7 linked regions of the Homo sapiens genome follow. The protein of the gene in region 4 purifies or fractionates together with the protein of the main gene of each other region. This does not show direct contact. Each region holds a gene or a part of one and is shown on either strand. Other genes may lie near its edges. The genes, in order: REXO2, DERA, ESRP2, PITRM1, MSI2, NID2 and NFU1.

Region 1 (4,176 bases), on a different chromosome or scaffold from region 4:
GGAGAAAGTTTGCATATCAGGTATGACCTTAGAAAGTAACAAATAGATTTGTGCATTACATCAAGCATGTGGAATGATAGATTTGTCCTTCTGTTCATGAGAGGTCATTTACAAATTTATAAGGAGCTAAACTGACTAAGTACTTGGAAATCTGTACTTGTAAGCTAATCACATTTACCCAAACCTGATTTAGAAATATAGAGGTGCTTTTAGGAATTGTTTGAATTTTAAAAAATCATCTCCATTTCAAATACAACTTATGAATTTTGATATCCTGTTGTATAATACTAGAAATATAGAGATGCAGTATGCTTCGTGTCTTTCTAGGAAATTCAGTTCATGAAGATAAGAAGTTTCTTGACAAATACATGCCCCAGTTCATGAAACATCTTCATTATAGAATAATTGATGTGAGCACTGTTAAAGAACTGTGCAGGTAAGGGCTATATTTAGGATCCATTAAATTACCTCATTTAGCATGTTTTAATTGAGAATTTGTGGAAAGTAATTGGATAGAGCTGTAGAACTAAGGCTACCAAGTGGGTTCATATCTTCCTCATCCCATTCTTGCTTGTATAGGACCTTAACTTACCCTGGACTGGTGAGAATTGGGAGCAACAACGTCAGACATGTTCCCAGTAAATAAGCCAATGCCTGGCACAAAATAAGTGCTCAATACATTTTCTGGATTAACTAATATTATGTGGAAGTCTTGTGACTGGGAACATATAGATGAAAAGCTCTTAAGTACTTTAGAAAATAGTGGATCGACATATGTGTAAAAAAACGCACCCTGAAAATATACTCTATGATGACTCCTATAGTGAAAATGTGCGTATGGACTAGTGAGGTCACAAGGGAAGCAGCATCTAACTGTGCTGGAGCAAGAGGAATGGGGAGTCAGAGAAACCTTTACATAGCAAGGAAATAGCTTTGAAATTGAGATGTGAAGAAGAGTGGAAGTCTTGCAGGCATTTTATTGAGGAGAGAGCATTCAGAGAGAGCAGACAGAAGTATAAGAATGTGAGGGAGCAGGAAGCTAAGGCAAAATGTGTTAAATGAATCCCAAAGCATTCATTAATGCTGGAGTGCAAAGCATGAGGTTGGAGAAGGTGGGAGGTGGTTCTAGGGCCTCAAGAGCTTGCACACCATGCCAGTGAAGTTCACTATGATCTTGCAAGGAATGGGGTTCCTTTGAGAAAGTGTAGGTAGAAGAGTGAGTGATAACGATCGTTCTGATTCGAAGGTGGCAAGAAAAGTGGTAGAAAGATAGAAAGGAGGCTTTTTTTTTTTTTTTTTTTTTTTGAGACGGAGTCTCGTTCTGTCGCCCAGGCGGGAGTGCTGTGGCGCGATCTCCGCTCACTGCAAGCTCCGCCTTCCGGATTCACGCCATTCTCCTGCCTCAGCCTCCCGAGTAGCTGGGACTACAGGCGCCCGCCACTGCGCCCGGCTAATTTTTTGTATTTTTAGTAGAGACGGGGTTTCACCGTGGTCTCGATCTCCTGACCTCGTGATCCGCCTGCCTCGGCCTCCCAAAGTGCTGGGATTACAGGCGTGAGCCACCGCGCCCGGCCTGAAAGGAGGCTTTTCTGCCATCTTGGGGAGAAGAATGAACTGGAGAAAGGGCAGGGCATGGAAATGAGGGGCTTGTATGATAAAAATGTGAGAGGGTCAGTTGACAGACACTCAGTGTTCGAATGAGGTGGTGTGAAAAGGAAGAGGTATAATGTTATTCTGATGTTTGTAGTTTGAGCAGCTTTGGTGGATGATGGCAGTGTTCAAATAAAAAGGAGAAGAAGAAGAGTAGATATGGTGGATGGGGCAGGGGAGGTGTTGACAATGGTGGGTGTGTTTTGATGTATGTTGAATTAGAAGTGTCTGGTAGATTTTTAGATGGAGATATCTAGTGGGCAGTTGCATATCCATGACAGAAACTCTAGGGAGGGCTGGGCTGGATTTCCAGATTTAGCAATCTTACACACTGATGAGCTTGCTCATAGAAAATATATAGAAGAAAGAGAGGAGAGGGTAGAAGATAGAGGCCCCGGCAAAGAAGCAACTTGAGAATCATGACTCAAATGCCATTTTCAATGTTAATGGATTACTTGAAGGAGGTAATTGTTCAGTATATTTGAGACAGCTTCCTTTGAGAGTTCCATTTCTGCTGTGTATAGACGCTGGTATCCAGAAGAATATGAATTTGCACCAAAGAAGGCTGCTTCTCATAGGTAAGTTTGAGTTCTACCAAGCGTTTTCCAGTCTGACACACACTTAACTCCCAAATTCCTGACTGCTTGAAATAATGTCCCTTAACTCTTTTTTCTCGGGGAAAAGATAAAGTTCAACTAGCATAAACATAACATTCTTTTACTGTTAGGAATTCTGGTCAGGATTCCAGTGTTCCATTCTGAGAGGGTTATATAGCCTTTATTGCTGTTTCAAAACTCTTAGATAGCTTGGTTTATAGGAATGATGAAACAATCTGTAATCTTTCTAGTAATGAACCGTGTTAACTTTCTTCCCACAGAAGATATGGACTTGCAGCCTTTTGAAATTAGAACACTTTTTGTGTGCAATTCTATAATACAGTTGCCTACTTTGACACTTGTTATAGTTTTTCTGATTGTTTCTCTTATGTCTGTAGCCTTAGGTACAAGTAGACAAGGAATTTAAAGATCTTGTATATTCATGTGTCCTGTACTGGTTCTTTTCTTTTTGATTTTGTAGTCTTTCAGGAGAAACATGAAACCTGATGGGAGGTTTAGCAGCTGGCTTCTAAGGGTAGCATTTATTAAACCATTTACTGAACCCCTATGATGTACCTTGCACAGTTATAGGCAAATAGAGAAAGACCAATCCCTAAAGAGTCTGGCATTCTTACATTATTTTATTGAGTGTATGTAGACTGTAGCACAGGCATACAGGCCTAGACTACCTTATCTGACACAACTGGGGTATGTTTTGATTTCAGAATTTTTCAGATTTTAGAAAGGTGTTACTACATCTGTATTGTTTATTATCTTGTAGCATCCCTAACAAGGTTTGAGAAGCAGCCCATAATAAAACACATAGGTATTCTGCAGTGAAACGTGTATATTCACACCAAATGGCATAAGTAATGATGACTGTCAATAGCCTCACATTAAGATTGCTCAGGTTTTGCTACATAATAGGTTCTGTAAGTACTGTGGGTTTTCAGGTGTGTTTTGGATTTCAGTTTTGTGGATAAGATATTGTGTGCCTTTATTTAGCCAGAGGCTATAATTTTGGCAGCTTCGGCTCTGACATATATCCAAGTCCTGGAAAGAAAGCAGATGGTTGCCTTAGCCACACAAATAATTGTCATAAAACTCTTGCACTAAAATTTGTGCAGGGAATTCTCTAGAAGTGGCCCTTGGCCCATGATTCAGAGTTTATTGATTTACTTGCACACTGTTCTAATAATCTTGGTTACCTGATTTCTCAGAATACAACAGATGAGAAACAACATATTGGAAGAAAAGAAAGGCTCTTAGATGGAGGCAGGCTGCCACTGATTATAGCACAAATCACCATGAGAGAGGAGGTAGATCCTCTGGTATGGTTAGGTACTGTTTGATAATTGATGTTTATTATGATGACTGAGTCATGACTTATGTTCAAGTGTGTCAGTCTGTTTTGTTGAGGGACATCATCAAGTATTGGGCAATGTTTCTCAAACTGTGTTCCATGAACTGTTTATAAGTATTCTACAAATGTGGTCGATTAAGTTTTAGAAATACTAAAATTTATTAATTTTAGAAAATTAATAAATTAGAAATATAGGACAGCTTCCTTTTGGGAATTCATAATACACATTAGTATATTAAATGCTTTGCAACTTTTTATTTCAGTAAAAAGTTTACTCTAGTTTTTCTAAACTTATTTGACCGTGGAATTATTTTTTCTCCCTGTGGAACATGTCGCCATCTTTTGGAACAATTTGGGAAACTTTAATCTTCTATATTTTACAAATTTTTTTGTCAAAAGTTTTTAAAAAACAAAGCATTTAAAGAAAATTGCTTTTCTGAAATGTTCTACTTTTGATGATGCTAGACAGTGACACTTACAGTAACATCCATTGTTCTTAAGTCGTTTTTTAAAAGTTGTACTTTTAAAATGATTTTCATCTCCTGGTTTTGGACAGTTCATTCATTG
Region 2 (4,176 bases), on a different chromosome or scaffold from region 4:
CTTGGGAAATAGCCATGTTACAAGTGAAAAAGCAATAAATCTGGAGCCAGAAGACCAGAGTGTTCAAATAGTGATACAGGTTATTTATTAGCTTTGTGACCTTAAACAAGTCACACAATCCTAGATTTCTTCCACTCCAGGACTGATGTGAGGACGAAGGAATATTGTTTCAATGTACCTGGTAAAGCACACCATGAATACGGTTTTATTACTCATACTAAGTGCTCAACAAACACTGCTTAAATGAAGAAATGAAGTGGATAAACAACATGAACAGAGAAACAAGCAGACAGGAAGAAATAAAGGGACATGTTTATAATCACATTTTTTTCTGTGGACAGGATGGGTGGAGGGTGGGACACAGCTTCCAAAGCGTGATGACCTAATACCACATTTGTATCATGAGTAGTAGGTGCTGTGCGTAGGACAGGGTTGGCTGACCTCCCAGAATGAATACACTTTCATTGTGACCAGGATAACAGCTGGGGTAACAGGTATCACAAGATTGGCTCCGATGTGACCCTGAGGAGTATCTCAGCTCCATGTGCACAACCAACAGCGTGGCTACCACAAAGTATGTCCTATAAGTGGCTGCTGTTATTCGTTTCCAAACTTTTACTTTGTTACCTGGGCTAACAATCACTTGTGCTGGCAAGCAGCATAAAGGGGGGCTACCTGTACACCAAGTAGCCTCCAAGGGGCTTTTCCCAGGTTCCTAAGAGGCACAGTGAGTCTTCTACTGTGAATCTTTGAAATGCCAACATCACTGATGAACAACTGTTCAAAGTGTTCCATCCCTTCTCATCCTTAGGTTTTTCTGAGATTTTGCTCTCAGATAACAACTGCAGATATTTTCTAGATACAGCAGTTGTGCCCAGAGCAACAGCACCATTGCTGACTAGTAGGCTGATTTTCAGTAGAGTTCCAAGGAATGATCTACTAGGCCTGACAGAGCACTCAAGAAGTACACAAGAATATGGCTGGCCCAGATTCAAGACCAGAGAAACCAGGTATCTTCATCCAAATATAGGGCCCCTAGAAGGACACCTAGAAATTCAACACTCAATCACAATGTCATGTGATAAGTTATATGATAGGGCTTTTACTTGAATGCCGTGGGGACACACAGAGGAGATAATGGGCCAAACAGCAGGGGGAGAAGCAGTGTCAGGGGAAATAATTCCTGAAAAAGGTGGTACCTGTGCTGAACCCCAAGATGTGGAGTTATTTGGGCAAAAGGCATTCCGGGCAGGAGGCACAGAACGTACAAAGACTCAAAAGGTTGGATGGCACCATCTGCAGAGAAGTGCAAGTAACTCTACCTGGCTGGAGAACATGGTGTGAAGGGAAAATGACACAGCAGAGGCACAGCCAGGGTCTTAGGAAGGACCTTTTTAAAATAAGAATCAAGGAATGTACACTTTACCATAAAGATGAAGGGAAACCACTGAAGGAATTTTAAGCAAGCAGTACCATAATAAAATTAGCATTAAAAAAAAATTGTGGTGACAGTGTGGAGAACAGATTGGAGGGGAACAAAAGTCAGGAAGACAGGGGAACAGCTGAAGTAATCCCTGTGGAGGAGGATGGTGGCCTAAGACAGCAGCACTTAGAATGGAGGGAAGATGTGTCAGACACAGCAAAGAGGTCTAGAGAGAACTCTCAAGGCTTCTTCACTGATTTATGTGAGGTGAGAAAAAGAAAGAACCAAGCATGACTCCTAGGCTGCAAGCTTGGATGTCTAAATGGATAGACCTGCTGTTCACAGAGATAAAGAATAAGTCAACTTATATTTGAAAGTATAAAAATCAATGATACTGCACTAAATTTTAAAACATTAACACAAACAAAAGCAGAGGCTGTCTCAGATAGTATGGATATATATCTCTGAGATAAATGAAAAGCTTAAATTCAGAGAGGAGTAAGTCAAAGAAATTCCTGTCTAACATATGTTGATGAGTGAATAATCAAAGAATAAAACAGAAGGCAATTCACTAACAAGAGAGCCATCTACTGCCTTATAAGCATAGTGCAGCAATGAAATGCCACACACACACAAAAAAAAATGTGGAAGAAAGCCAGGAGTTTTTGACCACTTCACATTGAACATGTTTTTACAAAATATCCGATTCCTCCCGCAAAAAAATTCCAAGTGGTTAGCACGTTTAATAATAGCTAAATGCTTTCACTTACTTAATTTCTCCTAAAAACATCAATTCAATAGAAAACATTATTTGAACATAAAACACTTACCTGCCATCATTGCTATCATACTGGCTTTATAGACATTAGTAAGAGTTCCAAGTTCTCCTGTCGCTAATATAGTTTTAAGATGAGCCTCCCCACAGGCCTTGCGAAACTGACGAATCTCATCATACAGGGCTGGGGAAGAAAATAATTGAGGCAGTTACAAAGCAGGCAAGTGATAACATAACTTGGCAGCCGTTTAGAGCTGGTGGAACCCATTTCACATTTAGGAAACATAAAACATTTGTCACTTTCTAAAAATCACCCCAATTTAACATTGCCTGGAGCATTCTGTTGCAGTTCACATCCTGTTACAAGGAATGCTTAGTTTGCTACCATGAAACCGTTTCTAAGCCCTGGCCTGAGGTCCAGAGACATAGAGCTTTTTAAATATCATAATGACATGCAAATTATAAATAATTTCTGTCTTGTCCATATGATGGTTGCTTCCAACAAAAAACAAATGTAGCTACCATACATACAGTGGTGTACCCCTTTGCAAAGTAATAAAAAAAAATCTTAGGTTCTTATTAATTCTTCCATTCACAAGTAATAGGTTCTTTGGTTGGATATAAAGCACACCTTTCTTGAGAGTTATGTTCATGACAATAAAGACACAGCAGCTTGCCCCACTGCCTGCCAGAGTATGTTTATATATCTGACTAAAAAGTGTTAGGCCTGGCCAGGTAGTGCTGGACGCATGTGTACAAAGCCATCTCTGCAGGGAGGCTCAGAGATGCTGCCTTAAATCTGTTAACCCCTGAGCCCATGACCCCAGTACCACATCTGGCTTTGGAGGGTTCCACATTGGGCCCAGATTTATTTCATATTTCATATTCAAGGTAACATTTTACATGAAAGGTAGCAGGATTTTAGTAAGCAAATTAGACCAAAATCATGTGTATTAAATCTTTAAAAAATTATTTAAGTCTTTTGTCAATGATACTAGTGAATTTTGGCTTTTTCAGGCCGGCCACTATCATTTCTTGAACTCAGGCTACTGCCATGGTAACAAGACCAAGGCTTTTTCTTTCCTTTGTATTTGAGTATCTTTCATAGGAAGTAGGTTTTTTTGTTTTTTGTTTTTTGGTTTTTGAGATGGAGTCTTGCTCTGTCACCCAGGCTGGAGTGCAGTGGCGTGATCTCAGCTCACTGCAACCTCCGCCTCTGGGGTTCACGCCATTCTCCTGCCTCAGCCTCCCGAGTAGCTGGGACTACAGGCGCCTGCCACCACGCCTGGGTAACTTTTTGTAGTTTTAGTAGAGACGGGGTTTCACCGTGTTAACCAGGATGGTCTCGATCTCCTGATCTGGTAATCCGCCTGCCTCAGCGTCCCAAAGTGCTGGGATTACAGGTGTGAGCCACGGTGCCCGGCCCATAGGAAGTAGTTTTATAAACATACAGAGTAAACCAAGCAGGAGGGAAACATTCATAATAAGGGTTGGGGTAAGCATTTCTTAAAGCTAAAATGAGAGTTCTATAATTCACAGGCTTAGTAAAGTACATTTAGAAAAATGAAAAATTAGTCTCAGTTAAAACCACAAGTTATAACAGCCAAATAAAGCTTGCCTTCTCAATCACAGAAAACATGAACTTGAAGCTCAGAAGTGAAAAATGAAGAGAAATGAAAGCAAATATTCTATTCCAAGATGCTCAGTAAGTTTAGAAAGTTTGTTACCACTGAGAGATGGTACCCACAGAAGGTTCAATAAAGAACAGACTATTTTCACAGATCCTTAATAACGTGCAGTTCTGAGTACTAGGGATGATCTGAGATGCCACACCACCTACCTTACCCTGCCCATCTACCTAACCTGGGAGAAAATCATCCTACTTATGCCTCCAATATGACAACCTGTGTAAGAATGTTAAAAATAGTAATAGACTATGGAGCGAAAAAAAAAATTATATTCTTTTAATTCAGAGAAT
Region 3 (4,848 bases), on a different chromosome or scaffold from region 4:
CCGCGCCTGATTCGCTTACCGCTTCCGGGGGAGGAGACGCATGGGCCAGTGCCCGGGTGGGCGGTCCGGAGATGGACAGCCGCGCACCAAGGCCCGCCTCCACCTGTAGGGAAAGTAAAGTGCTACTCGCTCGAACCCGCCGGGCGAAGGAAGCACTTCCCATGCTCTCCCTGTCGCCGTGTCCGGGCGCGAGTCATTTCCGTCCCGGGCGCCTGTTTCTTTAGCTGCCAAGTGGAGCTACGCTGAGCTCTCTCCCCCCGGGCCTCGCCCCTTTCCCGGGCATGAGCTCTGGTGATGCGCCCGGGTGCCCCGCTCTCTCCATTGTCCAGGGGCCGGGCCGCAGCACCCTCCTTGTCCGAAAGCGCGTGGTGCGGCTCCCGTCTCAGTCTCGAGTCGGGCTAGGCAACCGCGTGACTCAGTTCCCGCCACGCTGGAGCCCCCTCCTTCCTGCTGGATTATTCAGTTTCTCAGTCACTTATTCAGTTTCTCAGTCACCTCCCTGGGAGAGTTTGGGAAAGTAAGGAACGGCCGGGAAACGCGCCATAAAGGAGCCTCACCAAGCTCCACTGGGCAAAGGGAGGAATGGGAGCCCCAAATGCGGGGCTGTCAATTGGGTTGTAGGTGCGGGATGGAAAAGGGAGGATCTGCAGCCCGCATGCGCGCACACACGCTCAACGCTAGCCCCCCATCGGCCAGAGCGCTCGCAATCTCCAGGCAGCTTCTCCACCGTCCAGAAAGGGACGAAAGCAGGCAGGCCCCCACACGTGGGGTAGGAGTGAGGCTCCAGGCCCGTTCTACCCCTCTCAGCCTCGTCTAGGGTGCAGCTCTCTGCGATTTGGGGGGTTCCTTTCCCCAGCATTGAGGCCTGCCCACTCCCAACCCACAACGACCGCGCTCTGGCACTTCTCAGTGCCAGGCTAGCGCTCGGCCCTAGCATCTGCGTGGACAAGCCCTTCCCTGTGATCCCTGGTGACCACCCCACAGCTCTAACAACGCTGATGTTCCCGCCGCCCTCCCCTTTCCCAGGTGACTTCTGGTGATCCCCCTACAGGGTGATACCCGGCAACTCTCACCGCCCCCTTGACCCTTTGACTTCCATCAACCCCAGACCTGCCGTGTTGACCCCCACAGCCCCTAGACTGCCTCCTGGTGACTTCCATACTGGAGAAGGCCTCTGTCTTGCACGCTCCTTTGCAGAGGCCTGACGACCCCTGGGGAAGAGTGGGGGGAGAGCGGAAGAATGGGTTAGCCCCCAAAATCAGGCAGGACCAGCCCTGGAAGTAGGAATCCGGATCCTAAGCGTGCGCCCAGGCCGGGAGCGTGAGCTCTTGCGTCCTGGGTTGAGTTCTGGCGGCCCTCCCCCAAGGTTCCCGGAGCCGCCCCGGTCACGTGGCCGGCGGGGCCGGCAGGTAACTCGCCTGGAGAGGGCGTGGGCCGGTAGCCGCCCCGCCCCGCGGGGCGCCACGGGCGGGTCTTGGCAGCGCCCACTGAGCCAGCCGGGCCGCAGGTGCCGCCCCCGATACACGGTGTCCCGCCCAAGCTGATCCGCGTCTGCGGTCGGTCGGTGCGTGCGTGCGCCTCGTCGGTCCGCGTGTCTGGCCGAGAGCCCCCTTCCTCTGCGGCCATGACTCCGCCGCCGCCGCCGCCCCCTCCCCCGGGCCCTGACCCCGCGGCCGACCCCGCCGCGGACCCCTGCCCCTGGCCCGGATCACTGGTCGTCCTCTTCGGGGCTACGGCGGGTGCGCTGGGACGGGACCTGGGCTCGGACGAGACCGACTTAATCCTCCTAGTTTGGCAAGTGGTTGAGCCGCGGAGCCGCCAGGTAGGGTGGAAAAGAGGCGGTGAGGTCCCCAGGGAGCTTCCGGGGTCGAGGGGCGCGGCTGATCGGTTTCCCCCGCCGCTCACAGGTGGGGACGCTGCACAAATCGCTGGTTCGTGCCGAGGCGGCCGCACTGAGTACGCAGTGCCGCGAGGCGAGCGGCCTGAGCGCCGACAGCCTGGCGCGGGCAGAGCCGCTGGACAAGGTGCTGCAGCAGGTGAGCGCCGGGGTGGGTGGCGGCATGGCCTGGACGTGAGGACATTTCTGGGCGGGATTGGCGGCCGGAGGCTAGGCCTGGCGTGCCGCAACCAACCGGTCCAGGCGGCAGGACTGGGCTCTTGTTTGAAACTTTGAGCGACTCTCGCGTGTGCGTGCCCCTTTCATCCGCGCGTGCCAGCCATTCCCCTGGGCTCCTTACTTTTCAACCATTGCAGGAACCTACTCCTACCGAAGGGATCGGGACGCAGGCTTTGGGATCCATCCCCAGTTCCCGCCCGGGGAGCGAGGCCGAGACGCCTTTGGGAGACCTGCTGGGTCAGGTCTCCCTGAGCCGCAGCCGGAAGCGAAAGGGGTCGAGGGGCCCATATAGGTCACCTGTCCTTGCGGCCCGCGTCTTCGGCCTGCTTGGGAGCTGCTGGAGCGGAGGCGTAGGGCGGTGTCGGCCCTAGAGGTAGACGCCGCCAGGTGTAAACTGCTCGTCTAGGCCTGTCCCGGCCGGCTGGCCAGGCGTGGGCGCTGTCCCGGCCTGGCCTGGGGGACTATCTGCCTGCTGAGTGCAAAGGCCTGGGGTGCCTCCTGCCCTAGCTGAAGTGGGAGGTGGTTTCCATTGCTGTTTTCTTTTCCTTATCTTCACTACGGCGCTCATTCTATGTCTGACTCTTGAGTGTAATTAGTGTAAGTCCTTTTTATACACTCACGTTCTTTCATCTTCCAACAACTCTTGTGGTTCCTGATGAGGAGGCACCACGATGATGATTCCTTGTCTGTTCCAGAAGGGCTCCCGGCCCTTCACTTGGGGAGTTTGCTGGAGGAGAGCTGGGTTGCCTTGCTCTGTCAGCCCCAAGTTGTAAAGTGTCACAGAATTGGCAGGGAGGGTTCGTGGGTCACTGATTAGTGTTTATACTTCTCCAGCAAGGATGGAGGCTGGGGGAGGGCTGGGCAGCCTCAGGAGTGCCACCCCCTCTATGAGCAAACAGCTCAGTGCCAGCCGGTCAATAGGATGTGGGTCAAAGCTCATGCTGCCCCTGATGTCCAAGTGTGGAGCTCTGTCCTTGGAGTTTCTCTGCCCCTCGGTTGGTCAGACCTGGAGGCGGGGCTGCCATTGACCATGAGCCTTCTGGGCCTCAGGCAGGCCTGGGCCTCCCCCACCTGTCTGAGGGTGGTACCCGGTCAAAGACAGGTTTAACCTGCTTTGCCCCGCCCCTTCCCACCTGCTTGTCCCACTCCAGGTGTTTGCTCTGGCCCCACTCCAAACTCCTGGAGTGTGTGTGTTGAGGGCTTCGGTTATATGTGATTGCCCTCATTTGGCCTGGAGGAGGTGACAGTGGACTGGAACAGGGTTGGGGGGTGAGGGGAAGGGACATAGGGCTAGGCTCAACAGGCGTGGCCTCTTATTCCCAGGCAGGATAGGGCTGAACATCTGGCTGAACCAGCTTTGCAGCCTGCCTCCTTCCTCCTACCCTCACTTCCTGCCTGCCCAGCTGTGAATCTGTGTGTTTCTCTCTCCCCATTCCCTATCCCCAGTTCTCACAGCTGGTGAACGGGGATGTGGCTTTGCTGGGCGGGGGCCCCTACATGCTCTGCACTGATGGGCAGCAGCTATTGCGACAGGTCCTGCACCCCGAGGCCTCCAGGAAGGTATGCTCCTGAAGGAAAACCGGGTGGGGTGGGGTGGTCAGTAAGGTTCCCAGAACCCCTCTTGTCCTGAGGGTGGGCAGGGCGCTCATCCTCAATCCTATGTGCCCCCAGAACCTGGTGCTCCCCGACATGTTCTTCTCCTTCTATGACCTCCGAAGAGAATTCCATATGCAGCATCCAAGCACCTGCCCTGCCAGGGACCTCACTGTGGCCACCATGGCACAGGGTATCTGTGACCCAGCAGGGTTAGGGTGGAGAAGCCACTGTGGGTACATGTGTCTGAGTATGTGCATGCTGTGGGTGGGTAATATGGACACATACAAGACTGCGTTATCTGCTAAGTCCCTGAGTGTACTGTGTCTTCGTGTCTGTGCTAGGATGAGTTTGGAATGTGGGTATGTGTCTGTCTATGTCTGGACTGGGAATCTGTATGTGCACACATGAACTGGGCCAAAACAAATGTGTATGCTGGTCTCCAGCATGTGTCTATGGAGGGGAGTTGGGCCCAGGAGTAAACAGGATTAGTGCTTATGCTAAGATGTCTTCACTGTCACTTCTCTGCCCATAGGTTTAGGACTGGAGACAGATGCCACAGAGGATGACTTTGGGGTCTGGGAAGTCAAGACAATGGTAGCTGTTATCCTCCATCTACTCAAAGAGCCCAGCAGTAAGGTTTCCCTCACTGCCTGTCACCTGTTCTCAGGGATGACAAATGCCTATTGCTCCTCCCCACTGTGACCTTCTCTAAGAGACCACGGGGGAATCCTCTTTGTCATTTCTTTTTTTTTTTTTTTTTTGAGACAGTCTCCCTCTGTAGCCTAGGCTAGAGTGCAGTGGCACAATCTCAGCTCACTGCAACCTCCACTTTCCGGGTTCAAGCGATTCTCCTGTCTAAGCCTCCAGAGTAGCTGGGATTATAGGCGCCTGCCACCATGCCCACCTAATTTTTGTATTTTTAGTAGAGATGGGGTTTCACCATGTTGGCCAGGCTGGTCTGGAACTCCTGACCTCAAATGATCCACCCACCTTGGCCTCCCAAAGTGCTGGGATTATAGGCGTGAGCCACTGTGCTCGGCCTGTCATTTCTTCATCTCTCTCAATTGTCCACTTTTTGCAGAACTTGGTGGGGACACCCCTCTCCACCAGACCCTGCTGACCCCCAGGCCATCTTT
Region 4 (4,176 bases):
TTATTGACAGAGCATCTTGAAAAATAAGGAAAAGTTTACACTGACTTATAATCTCATCAAAATACAATTTTACAGTCTGAGTCAATGATTTACATTATAGTTGGAAAACCCTGTGCTGGAGGATTGTGGTGTCAGAATGATGATTTCTAGTAGCCTGAGGTGATGATGCATCTGGGAACTGTGTCCGCAGCACTAAGCTGAACCTTTTGCGTTCTGGTCATTCTCCTTCCCTAGCGTGCAGTTCCGTACTACTCCCATGGACAGTACTGGTGTTCCTCACATTCTTGAGCATACCGTCCTTTGTGGGTCTCAGAAATATCCGTGCAGAGACCCTTTCTTCAAAATGTTGAACCGGTCCCTCTCCACGTTCATGAACGCCTTCACAGGTAAGACCAGCATCCTGAACAGAAACTGCTTTTGGGTTTGCCAGGCACACCCACTGGAATTCAGTTAGTTTCTGAGAAGGAATGAGGGGAGTGGGCAATTCATGTTCTAGAAAAATTTTTACCTCTCTCTAGTTGAAGGACATTAGAAATTTAATCCTTCAGGAAAGCCACATGGTAGCGAGATTGTAAAAACTAGCGTTTTAAGAAAACATATGTGAACTTTTCCCAGAAAAGTTCAAAACAATTTTCTCTTGGAGATATCGCTACAATGCCAGAGTTACTACTAATGTTGATGTTTGACTTTTAGTAAGACTGACGATAGTGGATAGGGTGACGATGAACAGTGCATTCTGTGGGGGAGTGACATTGAAGAGCGGGTTAAATCCATGCTGTTACAGAATGAGGTCATCTTTGTAGATGTATGAAAGTCTCTGGAGAAACTTGAGAGAGTTTAGATATTCGCTGAAGAAAGCCCTGGTGCCCGTCGAGTGCAGATCCTGAGACGGGATGGGAAAGCCGGCACTTGGGGTTATGAGCTGGGACAGCTGCTGAGGCCAGGGACCAGAGCATGGGGCCACTGCCCCATCCCAAGAATAGCTACAGCTTACTGTCCTAGGACAAAGGGGGAATGAGTCTTGAGAGTCAATAATTTTAGTAGAAATCTGTTATATTTTACAATTTCACTTTTCATTTGTACCCAGCTAGTGATTATACTCTGTATCCATTTTCCACACAAAATCCCAAGGACTTTCAGAATCTCCTCTCGGTGTATTTGGATGCCACCTTTTTCCCATGTTTACGCGAGCTGGATTTCTGGTATGTCATGAATGATTAACTAGTTGATACAGACTTTAGTATTTGAGTCACTATCAGCTTATAATGATTTGTCCTCAGGCAGGAAGGATGGCGGCTGGAACATGAGAATCCGAGCGACCCCCAGACGCCCTTGGTCTTTAAAGGAGTCGTCTTTAATGAGATGAAGGGAGCGTTTGTAAGTTTTCTTCCTTTTTTATGTTGTGTTCAGCTTACCTTTCCCATGTACAATATCATGATATAGACACATCTGGAAGATTTTATTTAATATTCTCATTATAGGTGATACATTCTTGAATTAGCTGGGGTCAGTGCTGTGAGCAGAAGTCGGGGTAGCAGGGCCAGGCTGCTGTTCTTCCCAGCAGGTCTCAGACCATGTCTGGGGACCCCTGGTATGTGATCTGCAGCAAGTCTGTGAGATAAAAGCTATTTTCATACCACTACCAAGACAGTGTCTTTTCATTCATTCTTGCCCAAGTACACGGTGTACTTTCTAGAGGCTGCATGGCAAGGTGTGTGACACACAGCGAGCTGCATACAGAGCAAATGGGGGAGTCCAGCTTCACCTCTGAGCCAGACGCTACAGAGATTTGCAAAAAAGGCAACACAGCACCACTCTAATCAGTTTTTTACTTTGTTATGAGAAGTATTTTTCAAAAATATTTATATCAACATGTAATGATGGCTTACCTTAATGAATAAGTATTTTTTAAATGTCTCAGCTTTAATTTAGAATATAGAAAAATTATATAAACACACACAGGCACCTACACAGGCAAAAACGCCCACATAATCAAAAGCTGTTTGGGTCCTCATTAAAACGCATTTATGCCTAGTGTTCCATTATTGGCACCCTAAGCTTGTGGGAGTTATTTATGTCCTACAGCTCAAGGTCATCGCCAAGGTCTGATTTTTTACAAAAAAATTGCAACCTCAGGCATAAATGGGTTAATTTTTCAGAGTGTAAAGGATTCTTGAGACCATTTTGGATTAAGAGCTGCTGTCCTGGGCCCATGTCTTCATGTCCCTTTGTGACTTGGACAACCTGTCTGTCCTGGTGTCCCTGAGGCTCATGGGTGGCCTGCTCTCTGATTCCCGTAGCTCCTCTCGGCTGGTGAACTATTTCTTACCTTTTCATTCTCAATTTGGTGGTCTTTTCTTCCAAGGAGTCTTCTTGAACTCAAGTTGGGGTGACAGCTTCTCCCCACTTCCCTCACGGCTGGTGGGCAGACCGACTGATCCATCCCGATTTACAGCCCTCAGCTATGCGTTTGTTGCACCACACATCAAAAAATCCATTGTTCTTCTCAATCCTTGGGTCCTGTGCGTGGGTGATGAATGATTGAATACCGTGTTAAACAATGCCTGCGTGGGTGTTTTTTTTTTTTTTTTAAACCATTAGAACAGCTTTATTTGCAAAGTATTACAGGTGTATGCACCAGAATGTGATCAATTGGCTATATTGTAAGTAATGTAACGTGTGTATTATTTTACATGTATACTTATGATTTATTTATTTTACGTTTCAAGACAGACAATGAGAGGATATTCTCCCAGCACCTTCAGAACAGACTTCTTCCTGACCACACGTACTCAGTGGTCTCCGGGGGTGACCCACTGTGCATCCCGGAGCTTACATGGGAGCAGCTTAAGCAGTTTCATGCCACTCACTATCACCCAAGCAATGCTAGGTAATATTTTGTTGGAAAAGTTTGATGGTGGATTGTGAAAAGTTGACTTGTTTGTGTTCTTAACAGTTTATGGCATGGCTTCTCTCACATTTAGCAATGCTTAAGAAATATCTAAGTCTAGGTAAGATTCTTGGCCTAAGTTTGCCTATCTTACTTGGACATTGATTTTGGACATTTACAATGATAGCCCTCAGGAGGCTCAGCATGGTGGTTACAAACACAGCGTTTAGAGTCCCCCAGAGGAGGGTCCTGGCCCCGCAGCCTGTTGCCTCACATCTAGCTTGGTTGCGTGGAAAGTGGGGGTGCATGGATGGTGCCCACCTTGACACGGGGTGTGAAGCTTGAAGCCCTCTCCTTGGCACGGAGAAGTGCTCTTCCAATAGTGGATGCAGTTACTGAACCTTAATTACATCCTCACTTTCTGATACATTGCTTGTTCTTATGTCACTAATACAAGGTCATTATAATAATAATATAGTCATATATCTTATATAAAACACTAATTGTATTTACATATGAATGCTAATGTAAAAACATATTTGCAAGATTATTTTATGTAAAAATAATTATGAAAACTTGAAGCATACAGAAAAGTAGAGATACTAGAATAATGAGCCCCTAAACACTTATCATGTAATAGATATCCTTTCCCTTGCTGAAGTTTTTGGAAGTAAATTATAGACGTCATGATCATTTGCCCGTAAATGTTTGAATTTGTGACCCTAAAACGTGAGGATTTTTTCTTACATGAGCTAATGCCATTTTCAGTTTTAATAGAATAAAACATACTTTCTTAAAACTGCCTATTTCTTATTCCATATTCAGATTTTCTAGTTGGCCCCAAAGTGTTTGTTGCACGGGGTCCCACAGGTCACACCTGGTCGGCCCGGGTTTCTCCTGGGCACCCTCTAGGGGACGGCAGAGGAGTGTGCAGGCCCAGTTTCTTTCTGGCGCACTCACTTTCCAGGTGGCCTGGCTGTTCCCGCCTGGTGTTGGGTGCCATGTTCCTGTGTTTCCTGAGCACTGGAACTTAGATCCAAAGACTTAGTTTGAGTCAGGCTGTGCCTTTGTAAGCAGAGTCCCTCATGGGGAGCTCTCCATAGACGGCCACATCCTACCATCATGTGAGGTCTGCTCGCCTCCACTGGGGATCTCACACCAGCGGGGTCCATGCTGAGAGTCAGCCACTGCCTTGGGAAGATCTGCTTTTTCCCTTCAGCCACAGACCATCTGGTGGGCTTGAGTTTCTGGTGTCCTGTGATAATGAGTTCCTCATCAACCTATTA
Region 5 (3,509 bases), on a different chromosome or scaffold from region 4:
TCAGTAAACACATCTGTGAATCCTGGGCCTGTTTTTGTTTCCTGTAACCAAAGCCGGTTATTTGTTGTATATTTTTAGTGTCATGACCTTTAGTTTTTGGTATATGATATGATCTTTTAGTGTAAGTTTGCATTTAAAAGTTATCGATGGGTATCTAATAAAGGCAAGTTTGTGGGGTTTTTTTTGTTTGTTTGTTTGTTTTTTTAACATTTAGCTTTGAAAACAGAAGTTTAAACAGAAAAAAGGTATCTCAGGTCAATGGGCAGTTTGCCCACCTGGCTGCAATCCCTGTAAGCACATTTCCCACCACTACCTCAACAACCCTATGGTACTATATCAAATCAGCAAAAGAATTGAAGCCTTGTCCTCTCCCCAGTGTCAGGTATGGTTTAGATGTCAGATTTCCCAACCTGTGATCTCAGTAAGCTTCTAGCCAGGTGATTCTCGTGCGTATTCAATAGTCCAGTGAAGTCCATCTTTGAAACTCTAGTTAAAACAGTGGAGGAAATCGCATACTTGTCTGACACTTCTTTCTCCTCCCCTCTCCCCTCCATTTTATGTTTTCTTCTGGACATCCTGGCCTTCCCTGCCCTGCAGAGCATACCTGGATGTCCAGGCAAGACTGGGCGAAGTTTCTGAGTGGCCCTTTGTTTAGGTGATGTCCTCAGACCTGGACCCCCACCAGCCTCACTCCCCATCCCAACCAGAGATGGCTCACTTCGGATCGAGGGTTGACTACATCTCATCATCTCACGAATCTGCTGTAATATAAGACAACAGCTTTTAAATGTGTATATAACCCATGATTTCGGTTTTGTTTTGTTTTGTTTTTCTTGATGGTTTCCCTCTCCCTCCCTCTCTTCCCATTCTCCTTTTAAATCTCTTTGAATCACATTTGGTAGTGATTTTGACTTAGTCCAGTAGTCACATAGCTTTAATATCTAGTTCAAAGCTAACCATAGTATAATTGTTATATTAAGGAGTTATTTTTTCTTAAAACATTTTTTTTTGCTTGTTTTGGTTCTGTTCTCACTTTTAAAGGATGCTGAGATGGTAATATGACTCTCCATATTTTGGTACCAATTCTGAGACTGTATGAATTTTCAGGTGGAACTTTAGCACACACTGAAGCAAAGTTGTGAAGTGCAGGGCGGGAGGTGGGCGTGAGCTTTCTATTTTGCGTTGTAGAAGAAGTGAGATGTAGTAAGCTAATTAACAGACTTTCTAGCAGTTCTTTTTGTGATGTCTCTTTGTTAATCTGAGTCTATCTATTTTCGGCAATAAGGTAAGGACGACAGTGTTTTGAGTGTCCTCCTTTTCTATAAGTGCTTTTTTTCTGTTGAAAGAGGTGATATTATAAGGTTTTTTGAAATTGTGAATTCTAAAAAAGAAATGTTGTAAATACAATTCCATTAACTACATAGAAACTATTAAGAAAGAGAGAATCAAAAATATTTTTGTGAGGGAGTCGGTCCCAGGCAGTTTGATGCTCTGTGGAAGGAGGCGGGAAGGGAACGTTGGCCAAGTCAGTTACTGAGATGAAGATCGCCCAGCTGCCAGGACCACCCCAGGACAAGTTAGAGCACTGTTTAGCTCCTTTGTCTGTGTGATAGACCTAAGAACTGTATTAGTGTTGTACCAGCCTATTAACCTCTTGTCTGTGCACAGCTTCAAATGTTACCGTCTAGTTAGATTTTTATTTAAAATATGAAAAACTGCTTTTCCCAAGATGTTTTTTAAAAACAAAGCTACAATTTTAATATTTAACATATTTAAAGTTTCAAAGCACACCTGTTTGGCTTGGGTGGGGGTGGGGTGGGGGGGACATTCTTTTTCAGTCTTAATTTTTAAATATTTGATCATTTTCTATTGTCCAATCATTTCAGCACCTCCAAAGGTCCCTAGGACACTTTGCCTCTCTTCTCCCCCTGCCCCCCACCCTGCTCCCACATCTGGGGGCCCATGGGCCAGGAGTGGATAAGCCTGCATTAATACAACCTTTCTCCATTCACTTTCTATTTACAAATTAGGAAAGCAACCTTTTGGTTTATATATATTTTTTTTAATACCTCAGTGCTGCAAGTATCACCAGAGAGGCTATGGAAGAATTTTTTTTTAATTTATTGTAGATGTAAACAGAATTTTAAAAATAAAAAGTATAAACATCACTGCACTGTGACTGGTGGGAAAAACTGACAGTTTCCTCTTTGCACATGTTTAACATTTGGCTGTTATAATATATGGTCCTCGGTTGGGGAAAGATACTTATGATGAAGGATATTTTTTAATTTAACTTTTTTTTAAATATTGGTAATAGGTCGGCAACAGCAACTATAGAAGTACAACTCAATAGATGGCATTAAAACATATTGTAGTGTGGATATATATTTTTTCTTTTTTAAAATGTGATATTGACGTTTTATTAATATTTTTTAAATTGTTACGTTTATAAATTTGGTACTTAAGGCACAGCCAGTATGAGACACTGAATGCGACATTTATTATAAAGAGCTGCTGCACTCCTATTTTTATAAATTTTACTAACAAAGTAGACTAATGTAGACATTCACAGACATGGTAGGGCAAAAGCATCTTCAAACTAAAGACTCCAAAATGCTAACTCAGAAAGAAAGAAAAAACCCGTTTTCAATTCTAATGAAACAGCAACAACATTTTTTTTAATTAAAAAAAAAATCATGTTCTTTGTTTTTCTAATAAAATGTTAGGTTGTTTGGTGAGGTTTTTTTGTTGTTTTTTTCCTTTCTTTGTTTCTTTTCTTTTCCCCCAAACAACCAGATTAAATGCTGAGCGCTTTTAAAATATCAAAACTTGTTCAAGTCATAAAACAACAAAACATAAGTTTTATTTAAAAAAAAAAAAAGAAAGAAAAAATAGTAAATTCCCAGAAATTCAGTGTTTAGACGAGGGAATTTAATTCCTATTTTGTCCATGTTGGTGATGTACTGTACTTCCCTTCCTTTTCTCTGCATCCCCCATCACCTCATAGAAGACTCTTTGTTGATCATTGTATGTTAATAATGTATAAAATGGCTATCTTGTAAGCGTGCTGTCCTGGTACTAGTGTAGCGACTTTTTTTCTCCTCTTTCTTCTAGTACATATTGATAGGTATAACATAATTAAGGTTTAAAAAAAATTAGACATAGTTATTCAGATTTAGGACCAGTAAGGATAGAACTTTCTCTTATTTATGAAAAAAAATGCTAATAATTTTGGGGCAGTTTTTTCCTTTAATTATTTTTTTCAATTTCAAGTTTAATTTTATTTTAGCTGATCTGATGTGGTTTCAACTAACCCAAGGTCTCACCATGTTAAAATGCCGGCGGACTCTACGGCGTTTTGTAGATCCCCCCCCCCCCACCCACTGTGAAGGGGTGCCATACTACCTTAAATGCTAATGCTAGATATGCAAAACTGGATTTTTTTAATTTATTTTTTAAAAGAGGGAGGCATGGTATATTAAAATGATTTTACTAAGAGAAAAAATATT
Region 6 (4,176 bases), on a different chromosome or scaffold from region 4:
ACGGCTTCAGCCTCGCAGGTGAGTAGGGCCTCTGAGAAGGCCGGTAGTCAGCATTGCTTTGGCAGTGGTGCTCCTTGGGGCACTGTCTTTAGGCCTTTACGCAGTGACAGAGGAATCACTTGTTTAATGTACTAGAGCCACATGTGTGTAGTTTTCTGGCCACAGGTTGTTGGGAATGGTTTGACCTCACATCACTGATTTTTGAAAGGCAGTGATTTCGTCTAAATGTTCTCCCAGCTGTTCTGAGAAACAGGATGATTCCATTCAGAACATTTGTGTCCTCTTACCCCAATTTGTTGCAGCATATTTGTCAGGCTTTTTAAATTATGCACAGATCTGTCAAATGCAAAAATGGTACTTGGGGCACCTGGGGATGATTTTACTTCATGGGGAAGGGGTGCTCTTCTCCTCCCAGCTCCACAACCTATAATAGTATAGGCCGGTGCACCCCAGACTTGAACCTGCACACACATCACTTGGAGGTCTTGTCAAAATGTAAATTCTGGTTCAGCAGGCCTGGGGTGGGGTCCGTGATTTTGCTTTTCTACCAAGCTAGGAGGTGAGGTACCAGTGTTGCTGGAAAGGCCACCCGTTGACAACAAGGATTTAGAAGATACTTTTTGGATTCTCACCTTCCAACCTGAAAACTTGTTTGCTAGAGGTTTTATCTTTATTGCATTAAAAATAGTTTTGTGAGAAGTTCTTTCTCCATCTTTAACTGCAGAGCTCGGTAGCTGTTAATAGGTTCTTGCTTTAATCAAAATTTGAATAAAGCCCTTGGGTCAAAAGTAGATAAAAAATGGCACACCTGGATAAATTTGTATTTCAGATAAACAATTTTCTAGTATAAGTATTACCCACATATTTCATGAGACATACTTATCTGAAATTCAAACAAAACCCTGAATGTCTTAGGTGGTAGTTTATTTGTTTTTGTTTTTTTGTTGTTAGGTTTATTTGTTTGTTTGTTTTTTGCTAAGTCTAGCAACCTTAGAGAAAAGTCAAGGACGTTCCCAAGAGTATTTCTCACAGAATACAAGCTTGTTCAAAGAGAAGCTGGGTGAGGTAAGGCAGGATGAAACCATATTCTTCAATGGAAAAGTTTGGGAACTTATGGAATCAACAGCTGATAGTGCTTACTCTCAGATATCAGATAATCTCCTTAGGCACGATCTCCAACAGCAGTAGAAATTGGGAGCGGGCAGTATATACTGGTAACTGTTTAAGCAAGACCTCTTTTCATCCCTGTGCTGAATGTTTTTCATCTCCAGGTGCTGCCTTTACCCATGACATGGAAGTTACATTCTACCCGGGAGAGGAGACGGTTCGTATCACTCAAACTGCTGAGGGACTTGACCCAGAGAACTACCTGAGCATTAAGACCAACATTCAAGGCCAGGTGCCTTACGTCTCAGCAAATTTCACAGCCCACATCTCTCCCTACAAGGAGCTGTACCACTACTCCGACTCCAGTATGTATAACCAGTCTTCACATCTGTAAAATGGGGATTATGCCCATCTCACAAGATAGATACAAGGCTTAAATGACTTACATGGCATGTCCTTAGAACAGTGCATGGAACATAAAATGAGCTCTATTATGTTATTACTCTTATTGTTACCATGAAATATATCGTGTAAGTGAGCAGAATGGCTGCTATACATAAGAATATCTATATCCCTACATAGTATTTTCAAATAATAAAATCAATAGCAACATTGTCCATGGGGTGGGTAGGGATGGTATAATTATATACAGTTTTTAACCATCCTACTTTCTGCAACATGGAAAAATAGTGATTATTGGAATTTATATTTATCTCAACCTTGTTTCAGCTGATGAGTTCAGGCTGCTTTAAAAAAAAAAAAAATCACAGAAAGAGGCCAGGTGCAATGGCTCATGCCTGTAATCCCACCACTTTGGGAGGCCAAGGTGGGTGGATCACCTGAGGTCAGGAGTTCAAGACCAGCCTGGCCAACATGGTGAAAACCTGTTTCTACTAAAAATACAAAAATTAGCAGGGTGTGGTGGCACGCTCCTGCGATCCCAGCTACTTGGGAGGCTGAGGCAGGAGAATCATCTGAACCTGGGAAGTGGAGGTTGCAGTGAGCCGAGATTGTGCCATTGTACTCCAGCCTGGGCGACAAAGCAAGACTCCATCTCAAAAACAAAACCAAAAAACACAGAGATGCTATAATTTATTATAAAACTAATGCTAGATTTGGAGTCAAAAGATAAGAATTTATATCCTGGACTTGCCATTTAATATCTATAGGGAAAGGCCTCTTAATATCTGAGAATGTATTTTCTCATCTTTCACATGGAACTAAAAATGCTTTTTCTATATTATGTGATCAATGTGTGCGAAGCGTGATGTGTTCTGTGAAAGTACTACCTGCGCACAGGATGCTGCCTCCATCACAGCTGCTGTTGTGCAGCACAGCAATCCGGATTGAGTTGTGCCTTTCCTCTGACCCCTGCTGCTCCTATGCTGAGAGCTGGCAGCCTGGCAGGAGATGTAGGGAAGACAAGGGGAAGCAGAGACCTGGGCTGTGAACAAAATGGTCAGTGTCCGGATCACTGACCTGAGCTTGACTCCTAGACTCAGATGGTGAGAGACAACCCTTTCCCTTCTCTGGAATCCTTCAGATTTACTGAAGTGCGAGGTGTTGGAAGTCGTCACTTCTGTGAAATGTAGAAGATGGATTGGTTTAAAATTTAGGGTGTAGAGTCAAACCAATGTGAGTTTCAGTTCCAGCTCTACCATGTGGCAGCATTGCATCTTAGGCTACTTAACCTTTGTGAGCCTCTGATCACATGATTTAGTGCCCACCTCACCAGGCTGTTGTGAGGAATAAATGAGGCAGTATGTAGAGAGCACTGTTGGCATGGCTGGCCCTTAGTAACACTTATTCTTTGTGTATAATAACATGGACAATTGTAGTGCCTTCTCCCTCTCAGCACTGTGGCTTTGCATCCACTCAGGTTTTTGGGATTTCCTTACACATTTTTTCATATAAACTCAGGAGGTTCCCAAGGGAACACACTCCAAGAATTAGATGAAAAAAACTGCAGAAAAATCCACCTCACATGAAAATCTCTGTATTTAATATTTTTAAAAAATTACCACTGTGTTTGTTGCAGCTGTGACCTCTACAAGTTCCAGAGACTACTCTCTGACTTTTGGTGCAATCAACCAAACATGGTCCTACCGCATCCACCAGAACATCACTTACCAGGTGTGCAGGCACGCCCCCAGACACCCGTCCTTCCCCACCACCCAGCAGCTGAACGTGGACCGGGTCTTTGCCTTGTATAATGACGAAGAAAGAGTGCTTAGATTTGCTGTGACCAATCAAATTGGCCCGGTCAAAGGTAAGGTTTCCTTTTTTGTTGTTGGGTAAAAATGACATCCTTTTAAGTAGAGTTAGAATGATTCACAGAGGTTACTAAGGGTTACCTAGTGCCATGCTGTGTTATGTGCTAGGTATAAGGATGAATAGAGCAGATCCTTGCCCTTGAGTTGGAAACAGAGGCAGAAAAGAGTTTTAGGGCAGGGAACAGTGTCCCTGCCAAAGTCAGGAAATAGAGCATAGTATGTGAAGCTGGTTTATAGCAATACCCAACTGTGCGTGCCAATCAGGAATATACCTGTGAACAAGGCAGACTGGAATTAGGAGGGAGAGTGATGCTGACAAGTATTTGTTACAAGTGTGATGAGAGCAGGGCACTGTGAGTCTAGTTTGAAGATTCAGAAAAGATGTCCCCAAGAAAGTGACATTTTAGCTAAAACAGATGAGAAGAATTTCATCCAAAACTAAGGTGGAGCAAAGAGCTAGTATCTGGAAAAACCAAACATCATAGAACTTGATGTATAACCTCCCCCTCCATGATTCCCAGAACATTATACTTAATGGTGAAAGACTGGATGCTTTTCCCTGAAGCTTAGGAACAAGACAAGGATGTCTGCTGTTGCCACTTTTATTCAATTCAGTACTAGAATTTCTAGCCAGGGTGATTAGGCAAGAACACAAAATAAAAGCCATCTAAATTGGAAAAGGACAAAGTAAAATTAGTCTCAGATGACATTTTGTGTAGAAAATCTCAGGAATTCACTAAAACACTATTAGAACTAAAGAACAAGTTCGCAATGTTATAAGATATGCAAGATCAGT
Region 7 (4,176 bases), on a different chromosome or scaffold from region 4:
TAGAACACAGGATTTTGAATGTAGTAAAAAACTACATTCAAAAAAAAGAAAGAAAAGCTTTTTTGTCAAAATTAATTACTATGGTTTTGTTAATAATCTTGATTGTTAACGAGATATATACTTTAATTTTCTTTAATTTGGGAAATAGATATGATTTAAAATAATTTGAAGTGTGATGACTGTAATGTAGAGTTAGGGAAGTTTAAGGGGAGAGGGTATGTGTGTCTGCATGTGTGTATGTATGTAAATGTATACCTATATGTGTTATGGAGCTGTAAGCATATAAATTCAGCCTCTCCTTTCCATTGCTAGCTTGAACACATTCCTGTGGCCATACTCTGGCTGATTCTGGCTAAGGGCGTGAGTTAAATCAGGGTAGACCTTACCCCTTCTGTAGCCAGGGGCCAGAAGAGGAACACTTTCCTGCAGGCTTGCCTGACTGCTTGGATCACAGAATAGCTTAGATATAAATATTGTAAATACTGAGTAACTCAGCTGATTAAACCACTTTAATTGGACTTTTAAACTTTGTAGGACTGAAATATGTGGTCATATAGGCTTTTCAAATAGGAAACCCATTAATTTTAGTCATTGATATTGACTTTAAGCACCACTAATCTGTATTTTGGGGGAGTTTACATCTACCTCCTTAGGTACCTATTAGTACCAAGCATAATAGGAAAAAATAGGCTGGCATGGTGGCTCATGCCTATAATCCCAACACTTTGAGAGGCTGAGGCGGGCAGATCCCTTGAGCCCAAGAAGTTCAAGACCAGCCTCAGCAACATGGTCAAACCCTGTCTTTACAAAAAAATACAAAAATTATCTGGGCTTGGTGGTGCATGCCTGTAGTCCCAGCTACTCAGGAGGCTGAGGTGGGAGAATCACTTGAGCCTAGGAGGTTGAGGCTGCAGTGAGCTGTAATCATGCCACTGCACTTCAGCCTGGGCAGCAGAGTGAGACACTGTCTCAAAAAAAAAAAAAGGAAGAAATATTTTTTATCATTCTGTCCTGTTTCCTGTTGTAAGTCTCATGACATTTTCATGAGCATCTTTCTGGATGATGGACCTGGGAGTCATTTTTGAAATACAAAATTAAACCCAATTGAGATTATAATTGTAATGATTTTGTTAAGTACCTATTCAAATTAGGTGTTTTTTTTTGTTTGTTTTTGAGGCAGGGTCTCACTATGTTGCCCAGGCTAAAGTGCAGTGATGTGATCTTGGCTCACTGTAACCTCCGCCTCCTGGGCTCCAGCCATCCTCCCACCTCAGTCTCCCAAGTAGCTGGTACTACAGGTGCGTACCAACACACCCAGCTAATTTTCGTATTTTTTGTAGAGACGAGGTTTCACTACATTACCTAGGCTGGTCTTGAACTCCAGAGCTCAAGTAACCTGCCTGGCTCAGCCTCCCAAAGTGCTGGGATTATAGGCGTGAGCCACCGTGCCCAGCCTGAATTAGTTTTTTAGTAATAGCTTTATTTATTGTCAACAGTAAAAAGTTCTGTGATGATGTCATTCATTTTCATACTTTCTACTTTAGATAGTATAGAGTATATGCTCTTAAGTGACTTTTTATTTTGCATTTGTAGTTTTTACCCTCAAGGATTTCTAAAAATTTTGCTTTCTGCAGGTGTAGTTTTTCTCAAATTGATTGAGTAGAATAAAGCCAGATTTTTTTTTTTTGTCTTGGCTCACTGCATTTTCTACTGCCTGGGCTCAAGCAGTCCTCTTGCCTTAGCCTCCTATGTAGCTGGAATTATAGGCACATGCCACCACAGCTGACCAATTTTTGTATTTTTTTGTAGAGACAGGATCTCTGTTGCCCAGGCTGGTCTCGAACTTCTGCCCTCAAGTGATCCTCCTGCCTTGGCCTCCCAAAGTGCTGGGATTATAGGTGTGAGCTGATGCACCCAGTTGAAGCCAGATTTAATTTTTCAAATATTGGTAGAGTACTGTGTGCAGATTTTGGTTAGCAATAAATTATTAATACAAGCTGCAAGAAATGATTGGTTCAGAGCCAGAGTTAGAAGATTATTTACAGAAAGTGTTGGCAGCCCTTTCTTTAATGTGTCATTGAAAAATCATTCCCTTATAACACAGATTTTCAGAAGAATGTCTTACTAGAAATATACATATTTTAAATGAAGTACTTGGACATTGCGGCTATTTTTTCATTTTTTAGGAATTGTCTGGTTGTCTAATTAGAAAAAGGATTTAAACAAAATGTATGGGAGTTCACTTTCAATTTTTTTCTTTATCCATGAAATGGTTTAACTTCAGCTAGCTGGAACTGCATGGCAAAGTACAAAAATGGCTCTCAGTTGTCAAATTAGAACTTTTTCTGTAATGACTAAGAAAAGCATTTTTGTACCAACCATATGTTTTGCCAAATTTAAACTCTTTCAAATTTAAAATAAAACTGTTGCTTTTTGATATTCTATTCTCTCTCCTAAAATAGGTGATGTGAAAATTAGGACAGGAAGATTGATCTTAAATGTATTTTCCTATTATGCCTGGCAATGTTAGATAAGGATTAGCAATATGTACGGTGGCTAAGAAAGTCAGCACCTAGAAAATTGTCCAGCTTTGAATCCTGGCTCTGTCACTTAGTAGCTGAGTGACCTTTAGTCTCCTTATTATAAAATAAGATAAAAATAGTAAGTATTGAAAGTACTCATTGAAAGTATGTAAGGATTAAATGATATAATACATGTAAAGTGCTTAGCACCCTGCCCAGTGCATGATAGGCACTGAATAATTTTTTTTTTTTTGAGACAGAGTCTCACTATGTCTCGCAGGCTGGAGTGCGTGGTGGCTGGATCTTGGCTCACTGCAACCTCCCTCTCCTGGGTTCAAGCAATTCTCCTGCATCAGCCTTCTAGGTAGCTGGGATTACAGGCGCACATCACCACACCTGGCTAATTTTTGTATTTTTAGTAGACACAGGGTTTTACCATGTTGACCAGGCTGTTCTCGAACTCCTGACCTCAGGTGATCCGCCTGCCTTGGCCTCCCAAAGTGCTGGGGATTATAGGCATAACCCACTGCGCCCGGCCAGGCACTGAATAAATTTTAATTGTTATATAGTATTGTCAGTCTATTTAAATATACTGCTGTAAGATGGAGGATTTCTTTTTACTCAGAAGGTTCATTTTCTTTTTTCTTTTTTCTTTTTGAGACAGAGTCTTGCTCTGTTGCCCAGGCTGGACTGTAATGGCGCAATCTTGGTTCACTGCAGCCTCCACCTCCCAGGTTCAAGTGATTGTCCTGCCTCAGCCTCCTAAGTAGCTGGGATTACAGGAGCGCACTACCACGCCTGGCTAATTTTTGTATTTTTACAAATACCTCTACAAAATAACCCTACCTCTACAAAACCCCTGTAGAGACGGGGTTTCACCATGTTGGCCAGGCTGGTCCTGAACTCCTGACCTCAGGTGATCTGCCCACCTCGGCCTTCCAAAGTGCTGGGATTACAGGTGTGAGCCACCACACCTGGCCTTTTTTTTTTTTTTTTTTTTGAGACTGAGTGTCACTCTGTCACCCAGGCTGGAGTGCAGTGGCACATTCTTGGCTCACTGCAAGCTCCGCCTCCCATGTTCAAGTGATTCTCCTGCCTCAGCCTCCCAAGTAGCTGGGACTACGGACGCACACTACCACGCCTGGCTGACGTTTGTGTTTATAGTAGAGATGGGTTTTCACCATGTTGGCTAGGCTGGTTTCAAACTCCTGACCTTGTGATCCACCTGCCTTTACCTCCCAAAGTGCTGAGATTACAGGCGTGAGCCACCATGCCTGGCCTTCTATTTTTTTTTGAGATGGAGTTTTGCTCTTTTTGCCCAGGCTGGAGTGCAATGGTGCGATCCCAGTTAACTGCAACCTCTGCCTCCCAGGTTCAAGTGATTCTCCTGCCTCAGCCTCCTGAGTAGCTGGGATTACAGGCGCCTGCCACCACGCCCGGTTAATTTTGTATTTTTAGTAGAGACGGGGTTTCACCATGTTGGCCAGGCTGGTCAGGAACTCCTGACCTCAGGTGATCCACCCGCTTTGGCCTCCCAAAGTGCTAGGATTATAGGCGTGAGCCACCACGCCTGGCCAGAAAATTCATTTTCTTTTCTTTCTTTCTTTCTTTTTTTTTTTTGAGACCTAGTCTCTCTCTATTGCCCAGGCTGGAG

Evidence for each region.
Region 1: the proteins of PITRM1 (region 4) and REXO2 fractionate together in Homo sapiens (co-fractionation; one large-scale study listed by BioGRID). This does not show direct contact.
Region 2: the proteins of PITRM1 (region 4) and DERA fractionate together in Homo sapiens (co-fractionation; one large-scale study listed by BioGRID). This does not show direct contact.
Region 3: the proteins of PITRM1 (region 4) and ESRP2 fractionate together in Homo sapiens (co-fractionation; one large-scale study listed by BioGRID). This does not show direct contact.
Region 5: the proteins of PITRM1 (region 4) and MSI2 fractionate together in Homo sapiens (co-fractionation; one large-scale study listed by BioGRID). This does not show direct contact.
Region 6: the proteins of PITRM1 (region 4) and NID2 purify together in Homo sapiens (affinity purification with mass spectrometry; one large-scale study listed by BioGRID and IntAct). This does not show direct contact.
Region 7: the proteins of PITRM1 (region 4) and NFU1 fractionate together in Homo sapiens (co-fractionation; one large-scale study listed by BioGRID). This does not show direct contact.

The regions. Positions count from the first base shown.
Region 1 is NC_000011.10:114,445,652-114,449,827, forward strand, and holds part of REXO2 (oligoribonuclease, mitochondrial precursor), read left to right. Parts: intron 1-327; coding exon 328-436; intron 437-2,174; coding exon 2,175-2,228; intron 2,229-4,176. UniProt on the Homo sapiens protein: 3'-to-5'exoribonuclease that preferentially degrades DNA and RNA oligonucleotides composed of only two nucleotides. Binds and degrades longer oligonucleotides with a lower affinity.
Region 2 is NC_000012.12:15,980,514-15,984,689, reverse strand, and holds part of DERA (deoxyribose-phosphate aldolase), read right to left. Parts: intron 2,383-4,176; coding exon 2,254-2,382; intron 1-2,253. UniProt on the Homo sapiens protein: Catalyzes a reversible aldol reaction between acetaldehyde and D-glyceraldehyde 3-phosphate to generate 2-deoxy-D-ribose 5-phosphate. Participates in stress granule (SG) assembly.
Region 3 is NC_000016.10:68,232,822-68,237,669, reverse strand, and holds the start of ESRP2 (epithelial splicing regulatory protein 2), read left to right. Parts: upstream 1-1,542; 5' UTR 1,543-1,624; coding exon 1,625-1,822; intron 1,823-1,907; coding exon 1,908-2,036; intron 2,037-2,047; exon of another isoform or gene 2,048-2,489; intron 2,490-3,562; coding exon 3,563-3,676; intron 3,677-3,787; coding exon 3,788-3,902; intron 3,903-4,170; exon of another isoform or gene 4,171-4,244; coding exon 4,245-4,343; intron 4,344-4,848. UniProt on the Homo sapiens protein: mRNA splicing factor that regulates the formation of epithelial cell-specific isoforms. Specifically regulates the expression of FGFR2-IIIb, an epithelial cell-specific isoform of FGFR2.
Region 4 is NC_000010.11:3,162,439-3,166,614, reverse strand, and holds part of PITRM1 (presequence protease, mitochondrial isoform 2 precursor), read left to right. Parts: intron 1-234; coding exon 235-386; intron 387-1,087; coding exon 1,088-1,202; intron 1,203-1,280; coding exon 1,281-1,377; intron 1,378-2,729; coding exon 2,730-2,890; intron 2,891-4,176. UniProt on the Homo sapiens protein: Metalloendopeptidase of the mitochondrial matrix that functions in peptide cleavage and degradation rather than in protein processing. Has an ATP-independent activity. Specifically cleaves peptides in the range of 5 to 65 residues.
Region 5 is NC_000017.11:57,678,952-57,682,460, forward strand, and holds part of MSI2 (RNA-binding protein Musashi homolog 2), read left to right. Parts: intron 1-597; coding exon of another isoform or gene 598-639; 3' UTR 640-3,509.
Region 6 is NC_000014.9:52,037,947-52,042,122, reverse strand, and holds part of NID2 (nidogen-2 precursor), read left to right. Parts: coding exon 1-18; intron 19-1,271; coding exon 1,272-1,472; intron 1,473-3,145; coding exon 3,146-3,376; intron 3,377-4,176.
Region 7 is NC_000002.12:69,427,026-69,431,201, reverse strand, and holds part of NFU1 (NFU1 iron-sulfur cluster scaffold homolog, mitochondrial), read left to right. Parts: intron 1-4,176. UniProt on the Homo sapiens protein: Iron-sulfur cluster scaffold protein which can assemble [4Fe-4S] clusters and deliver them to target proteins.